Linked DNA regions of Homo sapiens: region 1 is linked to region 2. Evidence: fine-mapped expression QTL. A gene starts in region 2. The other region holds a variant in brackets. All regions are shown on one strand. Distances are from middle to middle. Region 1 overlaps CD99L2 (CD99 molecule like 2). Region 2 holds the start of CD99L2 (CD99 molecule like 2).

What was found.
Region 1: its variant is fine-mapped to the expression of CD99L2 in whole blood (TOPMed, PIP above 0.99). The same link has a PIP of 0.9 or more in monocytes.

Annotation. Positions count from the first base shown.
Region 1 is chrX:150,764,911-150,770,278 of GRCh38, reverse strand. CD99L2 (CD99 molecule like 2) reads left to right here. Exons shown (of 11, transcript NM_031462.4): 11 at 1,178-3,943. The coding sequence ends at 1,245. It overlaps MTMR1 (myotubularin related protein 1), which reads right to left. Exons shown (of 16, transcript NM_001306144.3): 16 at 5,171-5,368. Among named protein-coding and RNA genes, the nearest start is that of MTMR1, 74 kb to the right of the region's middle. RefSeq lists a silencer at 2,482-2,591. The variant G/C (reference allele first, on the strand shown) is at 2,004.
Region 2 is chrX:150,895,704-150,901,071 of GRCh38, reverse strand. It overlaps CD99L2 (CD99 molecule like 2), which reads left to right and starts at 2,404. Exons shown (of 11, transcript NM_031462.4): 1 at 2,404-2,550. The coding sequence starts at 2,484. RefSeq lists a silencer at 2,120-2,729.

The sequences.
Region 1 (5,368 bases), 130 kb after region 2:
TTGCTGACGCTTTCCTAGTTGGTCCCAGCACTGAGCAGAACTGTGCTAGAGAAGCAGGGAAGCACAGAGGCGTCTGCTTCTAGAATGTCCGGCCAGAGCAAAAGCCTGCCCTGATGAGCCTGCCTCCCAGTTTCAGGAGCCCAAAGATGCTGGGGTGACAGCCAGGGCCATCTGCTGCCATGCCTGTGACTTCTGGGCATTGCGGCTGCTCGGCCCCTGCCCTTGATTCGTCCGTCCGAGCCAGAGCCCCAGGCACCTCTGCTCCCCATCAGCGAATACAATTACATCCTGAACAGAGCCATGGGGAAGCTTTTCACCTAGACCTAGAACTTTTCCCTTTGCAAATTGCCACAGGCAAGAGGGAACTTGGGTAAAACCCAGACCCTATTGTCAACACCTGTGCCCCTCCCTCCCCCTTCTGTGGTCATCAAGCACTTTCTGGATTCAGGAGCTGTTGGCAATTTGAGGTCGCATAAGTTCAGGCCACAGGCCTAGAGTGCCCAACTGCTCGAGGCAGATATGACCTGTGCCCACGGGATGCCAATGAGGAGGTCCGGAAAGGCTTGCTGGGGTCGGGGAGCAGCCGAGGCCTGGTGGCGCAGGCAGGGAGACTAGGACAGCTCAGGCGAGTGTTGCCAGTGGAACTACAGTGCAGCAGCCGTGGGGACTGGGCCTGGGAGACCAGGAGGGGCTCAGCCTGTGTGGTGTGTACTGGGAGCCAGGTGCCCTACAATGCTGCTGAAGACGGGTGGCAGTGCTGCACCAAATGAACTAAAATAGGCCTGGGTTCAGATGTGGAAAAATGGATTCCGCTGTCGCATCCACTGTCATGAGCTTTGCCACGGTTAGCCACCACGAGGCCAGCATCTGTGTGGGCAGGTGCTAGGTTGAGCCCTTTGTTTAAAATAACCCTTCCAGCAGCGCTGGCAGGAACACGCTCATTTTTTAGGTGAGGAGATGGAGGCTGAGCTGTTTCCAGAGCCTGTCCAGCTTTCTCTTTCTCTCCCCTTGACCGGCCCAAAACTGCTCCCAGGCTCAGGAGGGAAGGTTGCTAAGCGGCCCCCCAGGGGATACAAAGGGAAACCCAGTTCTGTTCCCAGCACGGGCTTGCTGCTGTATTTGCTTCTTCTGTGCAAGACAGAGCAGAATTCCTTCTGACGGCCTCTTTTTCCCCTAGTGAAATACTCCACGTTGCACACGCAGTCTGCAGAGCCGCCGCCGCCGCCCGAACCAGCCCGGATCTGAGGGCCCTGTCCAGCTGCAGGCATGCACAATGGTGCCACCGCTTGTCACCCGGCTCCCCCCACCCCTTCATTTGGACCCGCAGCTGCTGTGCTGCTCTGTGCCATCGGCTCCTTGTTGGTCTGAGTTTCCCGGATGAGCTCTGGGTGTTTGTGAGTTTGGTTTCTCTGCCCTGCCCCAAGCGTGCTGAGACTTGGTGCCGAAATTCAAGAGCCAGCTCTGATAGAAAGCCAGCACCAGCCTCGGGAGCTGCTGAGCCACCAACTCCCAAAGCCAGCCTGCCTCCAGCTTTACTGAGCACAGGATGCGGGGGCCAAGATGATGCTGAGGCCTGATGACATTTATGCTTAGGGGACAAGAGTTTGAACTCAAGGGACTGTGACCCCTGCACACTGGAGTGGCTCATTGTGGCAGGTTTCTGCCAATAGACAGCCCCTGACAGTGGCCTCAAGGAGCTGCAGGTGGGGGGCTCAGCCTGCACCCACTTGGAGCCCCTGCAAGGAGCGAACCGGTCAGCACCAAGTAACACCACACACACGCAGCACCCAGGATGATGGTTTCACTTCAGTCTTCCCCATCCCAGGTTTTATGTTGCTGGGCTTCCGGAGAGCCGGTCCAAGCGGAGGCTTTCAGTGATTTAAGTACAAACATGCATCTCGTGATAGTCCTGCCTTGAGAGCTTAGGAATCTTCCGGATAAGTATGAAGCAATTCGTAGGCCTGTTTCCCATCTGATTCCATAGGGGGCTGGGTGTGGCCTTC[G/C]GGTTGACATGAGAAAGGTCTTTAGCAATCATTTCTGCACCGGAGATGAGTTTTATCCTGTGTTGGGGAGAGGTGCTCACCCTCCACCCTGTGTCCCTGTTTTGGTAGCAAGAGTGACCGATGTCAAGAACGAGCATCAAAGCCAGAATCCTGCTTGTTTGCTTAAAAATGTAATTGGGGGCGGCGGGGGAGGAGAGGGGAAAGAGACATTCGCTTGGTTTAGTGAAACGCAGGTGACTTTGTAGCTCTGTGGTCAGCCTACTTGTCTGCTCTGAGGGAGAGTGCGTGGGGAGCCATGCTCACCGTGGCAAACACAGGAACCCCATGACTCGCCCCTCACCTGGCGTGGAGCTGCCTGGTTTGGGCTGGAGCAGAGCTGGTTTCCTGGAATGTTCCTTTGGCCCACATATGGTTCTGTCCCGGTGAGCTCTGTTGTCAGAGGCTCACGGGACAGAACCACATGCTAGGGTCTAGGGCCCCTGTCTACTGATAGTCAGTTTGCTGTGTCAGAAAGCACTTCTGAAAGCAGATATGAGTCACCAGACAGGCAGGATCTTACAAAACTCACGGGCCTCTTTGGTCTGCATGATGGCCCCATGCGTTTCATAGGCTGTCCACTGAGCGGGATTGTCTGCTGAGTGGGATGAGCCAACTCCAGTTTCTTAAGGAAACCACTGGAATCTGCAGCCCCCACATGCATCTGTCTAACGCATGCCTCGTGTTCGTTTTGCAAACATGCCTGTGGTGGAGGGTGGTCAGTTGTAGCCCTGTGCGTCTCAAGGCTGCCTTGTGAGGCCATTCCCAGTGCGTGCCCTTGAGCTCCTTACCACCCCTTTTCCTGCTCGGCCCTTTAATCCCTGACAGACCTGGACTGTGTGGCTGAAGGGGGACCTGCAGCACTGCAGAAATGCCTCTGCGTGGTGCCATGAAGGAAAGAAACCTTGGCCTGGTCTCGAGAAGCTTCCCATGCTTCAGGAAGTTAGTAAGGGTGGGGTGGCTTGCAGGATTGGCCTGTTTCCAGGGCCTCCCACACTCATTGGCCAGATTGTGAACTTTGTCAGGCTTGTCCCTCCCTGATACCAAGTATGTCGAGAACCGATGGCCCCACCCTCTGGCTGGTGCTGGGCCGGAGGTGGCTATGGAGGATTTTGGCATGCGTGGCCTGTCGCCACCTGGACAGCGTGACCTCAGGGGTTGTCCACTTTACCTTTATGGTGAGGCCTGTCGGATGGCTAAGTCCTTGAAACCCTAGAGCTGTGACGTAGAATATGTGCTGTCTGTGAGACCGTGTTCCCAGGAGCACTGACTGCAGTTGAGAGAGACCCATTTTGCTCTCCCTTACCGCCCCCCGCCCCGGGTGCTTTCTGCACAAAGCCTAGAGCCTGGCACTCAAGCCCACCGGTGGCAGCTCCTAGTGACTGGACATGCCTGGAAGACCCCTCAGCCTTCTGTTTGCAGAACGTTCATTTCAGGAGCTTCTCCTTCCCACAGACATCTTACACTTGCTCGACACTGCCACCTGCAGAAGCCTGGCGGGCTCTGGTCACCATGTGTCTATCTGAAGGTTGCACTGGCCAGCATGGGCCTGTCCCAAGCGAGAGGGGAGACACAGTGGACTGAAAGGACTGGTTGAAAGTGGCCAATCTCTATCAGCTTAATTTGGCAGAGAAAATTTGTAACAACTCTGAGCACATGCTGGGTGAAGTCACAGCTCAAGGAAAGATAAAGCTGGGCGGAAGGAGGTGTGCGTGGCTTCTGGGGTGGGACCCAGAGGGGAGGCTCTGGGACAGGGGCTGGGGTTCAGTGCCAGGGCCCTGAGGAAGAAATGGGGACTGATCTCAAAATTCCAGAATTCCCTGTACATCTGTTCACGTGCTTGTGTCCAGGTGTGACTTGTAAACTGTCTAGTGTTTGCATTAAATAAAATGGCACCGAGCAGATTCTTGTCTTCTGATGGTGTTAAGGCACGCCCTTGGTCAAGTGTTGCCACTTTTCCCTAAAGTAAGTAATTTATGATGCAGAGCTGCCCTCCTCCCCCTCCCCCCGCCCCGCCCCCAGCTGAAGGTATTTCTCGAGAAGCTTAGAATTCTTGCATTTACCCCTCAGTGACTGGCTCAGTGTCAGGACTTCCAAGGGTGACTCCTCACCGTACAAGCAGCTAAGGCCAGGGGATGTGGAGCGACCAATGTCCTGGGGTTAGAGAGGGCAGAGGCAGGAGCAGAGTGCTGCGGGGCCGCTCCCGGGCTACATGGGTTGCGCAGTCCGGGGCCTGGAAGCAGCAAAAAGTCCCAGGCTCACAAATCCCAAGTCGACTGCTCTGCCGCCTTCCAAGCAGGCTGGTAACCAGTGGAGGTTCCAGTTAACGCGCAGTTGTTTTTCAACCAGAAAGCTGGGTGAGAAAGGAGCCCTGCACCTCGTCACTTGTTGCAGCCTCATGGAGAGTGGCCCGTTTGGGATGAAGTATGTCCTTCTCATCAGCTCGCATGTTGGCTTCAAATTGAGAAGACGACAGTTCAGTTCAGGGCATTTCAGCATGAAAACAAACAAGATGCAGTGGACCCTGGGTTTTAACATGGAGGTCGGTTGTTTGTTTTTTCATTTTGTTTTGCCAACCTCGGCTTCTAGTGAAATAATAGCATCAGGTCCTCTCAAACCCGAGACCACCATATGCCTGTCTCGTGCAGGAGTTCTGCATGGCTAGCTGCTATGGTCTCACTGCTGGGGAAGGCTGGCTGGCAAGCAGTCCCCTGGGCATCCTCTGTGCCCAGTGAATACCGGGCTCTCTGGCTCACTCAGTAGTAACGTGTGTGGAGAGGGACAGGGACCCCACACCCTTAACAAGAAGACCGACAACACACAGAGGGCACAGGGGGTGGTGTGATTTCATCCAGGCCTTCGTGGCCCTGAAAAGGTGAACGCCCCTTCCTTTGGGGTGGGGGCAGTCTGAGGCCTTAGAGAGCACTGCACTTGCATGCGAAGGACTCATCACCCTGACTGGCTCCTCTCAGGTGTCTCCAGACCTTTCCCCAAGTCGTCCACGTTTTCTCAAGGTTAGAGCTGAGGGCGTTTCTGACTTTACAATCATCAATCAATCAATCAATCAATCAATCAGTATTTCCTGTTTCAGCCAAAATACTTACTTACTTACTTACTTACTTACTTAAGACTCATGATACATTTACAATTTACTGAATGAATTAAATCACATAAAGTTAGTTACTTTACATCATCATATATTAACTGTGCTTGACGCACAGTAAACATTCAATCCATGTTATTTTATTACCGATTTTCCTCAAAGGAAAAATCTACTAAGATACTTACTTACTTACTTAAAAAAGACCAGGGAGCAAACATATGATCAT
Region 2 (5,368 bases):
CCATGGTTCAATCTGCTAGAACGGAGGTCAGTAAACTTTTTCTGTAAGGGTTAGACAGTAAATATTTTAGGCTTTGTGTGCCCCATGGTCTCTATCACAACTGTTCAACTCCACTGTGGCAGCACAAAAGCCACCATAGGGAATACAAAAATCAATGGGCGTGGCTGTGTTCTCATAAACTTCATGAACCCTGAAATTTGAATGTTGTATCACTTTCTCATGTCATAACATTCTTTTGATTTTTTTCAACCATTTAAAAATGCAACCACTACTTTTAGCTGGAAGGCTGAACAAACAGGTGGGAGTAGGATTTAGCCCACGGGGTGTAGTTTGAGAACTATTCTTGAGCTAGAAGACAGTCTTATTGCATATGGCATTGTAGCACCTTTAGCAGCTAGAGTTCCAGTTGAGTGTGACTGTCCACTGCATATTGATTGACATGGCCTCAAACTTAAGAGGTTACATGCTTCTCACCTCCTCAGTGTAGATGAGTGTGTATGCATCAGGGTTTACCCATCAGATCCTGGAAGACTCCTAAAGACCAGAAAATCTACTGCCCTCCAGGTACAGATGGTACCACCAGGGCCTATGGAATGGCTCAGGGCACTTAGTAGCAAAGGTGGGGGCATGTCCACAGCCTGGAATAGACAGTAACCTCCTGACCTCACAGTGGCCACTATTTCCTTAGCCGTTACTAGATTAACCAGTAATGGTCCCTGCCCTCTGTCACTGTGTGCAGGCTGTCCACTTTTCACCACCTCATTTAATCCTTAGCACAACCTTGTTGGGTTTAGCCAGGATTTGTACCCGGTCTGGCTCTACAGCACACATTCTTAGCCATTCACCAGCTGGGGTTCCTAGTGGTACCCTCCCCCTTTGACACATGAGACTAGACCTGGCTAACTCCCCAACCTCAAGGAACCTCCATTTTGCTGCTTTTCCCTCGTTAATAGGTGATGATACATAAGGCATTGTGAGGAATAAAAATTAAGGGTAAAATGCCTGGAATATGCCATGTGTATAGTGTGTGTTCAATAACTACCAGCTATTTCTGTTAATTCTACAGCTAGAATGGAATAATGTTCCATTCATAGAGTAATTAATGCCCTGAGCCTGGGAAGATCCACTCCTCATATGCTGTTTTGTTTCTGCAGCCCTAAGATTCAGGGCAATGGATGTAAGCCACACGGGAGATTTCGGCTCCATCTCAGGGAGACCCCACACCCCACTGTTCCTTAGGGGTTGGTGGGAGCCACTGAGGGGGGTGCCTATGGCAGCGAGGGCTGGGTTGGGGGCACAGGAAAGCTGCCGAATGGATATTGAGGGGAGGTGGTAGTAGCCGCCCTCTAAGGAGGATGTGGCCCTGGGCAGCCGGTGCCGCATAATGGCAGGGACAGGCTCACGCTACCACTCCGGAGAGCAGTAGCGCTTCCTCTTTGTCTTCGAGAGCCGGTTGCAGCTGGGGCTCTTCTAGGGAGCGTTCCCATCAACTGCTGCAGCGGGCATTTTGCTGGTCGGCACAGTATCGTATCGGAATCTGATTTCTTCGGGTCTGGGAGACGGACTCCGTTTGCGGGGGTTCATGGGAAAGGACTGCAGCGCGTTTGTCGGTCATTAAGCACGTTTTTGAGATCGACTCTGCAGATATGAACTTGCACTTTCAGCGCATTCATCAAAGCCTCGGGAGAGCTGACCCAGTCCCTACCCCCAGTCTCCCGAGCCCGCGGCGCTTCGGCTCCGGGACGCCCCCATCCTCCCCTGTCGCCCACCCGGGCGCCCCCGGCCTCGTTTTCTCGAGACGTGTCACTGCTTGTTGACCGCAGCCAGTCACGAAAACGGTCCTTTTCTTCAGTCTCCGGCCAGGGTTTCACTCCTGCAGGGAACAGCGGGTGGGGACAGAGTGCGGGGCTCCGTGCTGGACGGTGTCTGGAGGGGCCCCAAGGGAACAACCCTTCACCGGGAGAACACCAAGGCCAGAAGGGGAAGAGCCCTTCTCAAGGTCACCCGGGAGGAAATCGGCGCCCACCGGCGCTGCCGCCTCCCGCTCCCCGGCACTGGTGACTCACTGCTCCAGGTCCGCGGGGCCACCTCCGAGACTTCGGTCTCGAGGACCGAGGTGGGACAGGGTCTGCGGACCGCGCGCTGCCGCTGGACCCAGCCCAACCCAACCCAGGCCTCCCCACCCACCGGGTGCCCGCAGGCCACGCCCCTCGCCCGGAGCCCCGCCTCCAGAACGCGGCCCCGCCCCCGATACTGCAGCCTCGCCCCGCCCCCCGGCCTAACCCCAGCCCAGGCGCCCTCAGGCGCCGGCTCTCTAGCGCGCCCGACCTCCATCTTCCCGGGGCCGCGCCGCGCGCGCGCGCGGGCTTTGGGCGGGACCCTGCAGAGGCGGCGGGGCTCCTCCTCCCGCTCCTCCTCGGCCTCCCCTTCGGGCGCTCTCGCGCTAACTGTGCTCCTCCGGGGCCCTCCGCCTGCTCCCAGCCATGGTGGCCTGGCGCTCGGCGTTCCTTGTCTGCCTCGCTTTCTCCTTGGCCACCCTGGTCCAGCGAGGTAAGGCGGGCGGGGGGCGCGCGGGGACCGCGCGGGGACCCCGCCTTGTGGGCCCAGGGGTCGCTCTGCGCATGAGCGGCACGGTCCCCGCCTCTCGGGCCTGCGGTGGCTGCCACCGGCCGGCCCGGCTGTGCGAGGCGGAGCGGCGGGGGTCCGAGCCCCGGGCCCGTGGGGGTTGACTCCGCCGCGGTCGGAGTAGCCGGAGAGGAGGGGTGGGTCCCCTCCTGACGCTGGGCTGGAAACAGCGGGATGGGCCCCCTAAAATCCTGAACGAGCAGGTGTACCACTGGTGACAACAGCTGTCCCCAAGAGTTTACCTTTGAGAAAACCTTGAAGAGAGCAGTCATTTTCGAAATTTGCTGCGAGGCCACCGACAGCAGAAGCACCTGGGGAACTTCCTAGGTGGATTCCTAGCCCCTTTCATCGGGATCACAGCGGGCATGGGCTGTGGGGGGGGGGGGGGGGGGTCAGCGAGGCGTAGGTCTAACCAGCTCTCTAGGTGCTTCTGCCGTCCGCTTCAGTTTTTGAGACTTTGGTCATGTTTTGCCAAGGAGCAGGAGAGAGAAATCCCGCTGAATCAAGGAAGCACGTTTCTTAGACCCTCTGCTACTCAAAATGTGGTCCAGGGCCCAGCCGCATAGGCATCACCTGGGAGCTTGTAAGAACTGCAGCATCTCACGCCCCGCCCCCGACCTACTGAGTCTGATTCTGCATTTCAACTAGATCCGCGGGTGATTCTCTGGCACATTCAAGTTTGAGAAGCATCTTAGTAGAATAAATGCAGTCTGTGGTTAAAAATAGGGTCTTAAACATGTACCAACAGAATCTTCTTACACTTATTTATATCCTATGTCCCCATCAGAAAAAGGGATTAAGGGAAACACTGTAATTGAACGTGAATTATGCTCCAAGCTTCCTGACAATAGAAGCGAACCCAGCTGGTGGAAAATATGTGAGCTCAGGAAACACACACACACACACACACACACACACACTTTGTCCTAGTACTGAGTTCTAGTAAGATTTATGTCACATAAAGGAACACTGGAAAACAGTGGATGGTACTAGCCAAGCCACTTTTGCAAAAGATGCAGAAATGTTTTTCATGTGGGCAACCCACCTGGAGTTGATTCACGAAGAGCCATTTAACATTCTGCAGAGGTGCCAGGCTCTGTTCTAGGAACTGATGATGCGGTAGTGAACAAAATTGAGACTGTCTTCATGGAGCTTACATCCTGGTCCGGGCAGAAAACAAGCCCAACATTGAAATCTATATATATTGTCAGTGCTATGGAGAAAAATAAAGGAAGTTACAGGGGTAAAGAGTTGTTGAATTTTCTTTTTCATTTTCCCTTTGGGATAAAATTTTTATTTTGTTTACAATGCATTTGTAGGAAAATGTATGATCATTTGATTGACTTGCATCTAATGACATGGAAATCTTGAAAGTAGAAGCACAAAAAAAGTTAGAAAAATGATACTCCCTTCAAAGCTGTCTTCTGAAAGTCTTCAACATGGTGTGCCCGTTGAGAAGGTGGGGAATAGAAATGATTGGGTCTCAGATTTGCACGTTACAATTGTTGATTTAAGAGGTGGTAGAGGAGACAGAAACAGTACATCTGTTTTATAGATGAGGAAACAGAGGCACAGAGAGGTGAAGTAACTTGCCTTAGGTCACACAGCGATTGCCAGAATTATGATTTGATGCAAGGCTTGTCTGACTGCGCAGTCACTGCCTTTAAGCCCTAGGCATATGCCCTTGCACCTGGAGGTACCCCACTTCGACTACTTAGGGACCATGGGAAAATGAGTTCCCCGAACTTGTTTGATCATCCATATGATGCCTGACAATCACAAAGGTGTTTTGAGGGGACCAGGCTTAGATCTACAGCCTTGCTACCAGCTACCATCTCCTGAGTTCTTCCTGTGTGCCAGGCACTTCACATATATTGCTTTAAATTGCCTCGACAATTTTGCAGGCTAGATATTATCACTGGCTTTCAGATGAGGGGGCCCTGGTCATATAGCTCAGAAGACATAGAGCCAGGATTCAACCCAGATAAGACTGCTACCCAGTTATCTTTTATTGTTTAAATTATTTTTAATTAATTAATTAATTTTTTTGAGACGGAGTCTAGCTCTGTTGCTCAGGCTGGAGTGCAGTGGCCTGATCTCGGCTCACCGCAACCTTCGCCTCCTGGGTTCAAGCAATTCTCCTGCCTCAGGCTCCCAAGTAGCTGGGACTACAGGCATGCGCCACCATGCCCGGCTAATTTTTGTATTTTTAGTAGAGATGGGGTTTCACTGTGTTGGCCAGGCTGGTCTCGAACTCCTGACCTCGTGATCCGCCCGCCTCGGCCTCCCAAAGTTCTGGGATTACAGGCGTGAGCCACCACGCCCAGCTTATTGTTTAAATTAATTAACTGAAACCAGAAGCAGCTTTGGTTTCAAGATAAGGGCCCAGTTTTCTGGATCTTTTTTTTTTTTTTTTTTTTGGAAACAGAGTCTTGCTATGTCGCCCAGACTAGAGTGCAGTGGCGCGATCTCGGCTCACTACAAGCTCCACCTCCTGGGTTCACGCCATTCTCCTGCGTCAACCTCCTGAGTAGCTGGGACTACAGGCGCCAGCCACCACACCGGCTAACTTTTTGTATTTTTAGTACAGACAGAGTTTCACCATGTTAGCCAGGATGGTCTCTATCCCGTGACCTCATGATCCACCTGCCTCGGCCTCCCAAAGTGCTGGGATTACAGGTGTGAGCCACCGTGCCCAGCCAACAGTTTTCTGGATCTTTTGTCCAAAATAAGATAATACGAT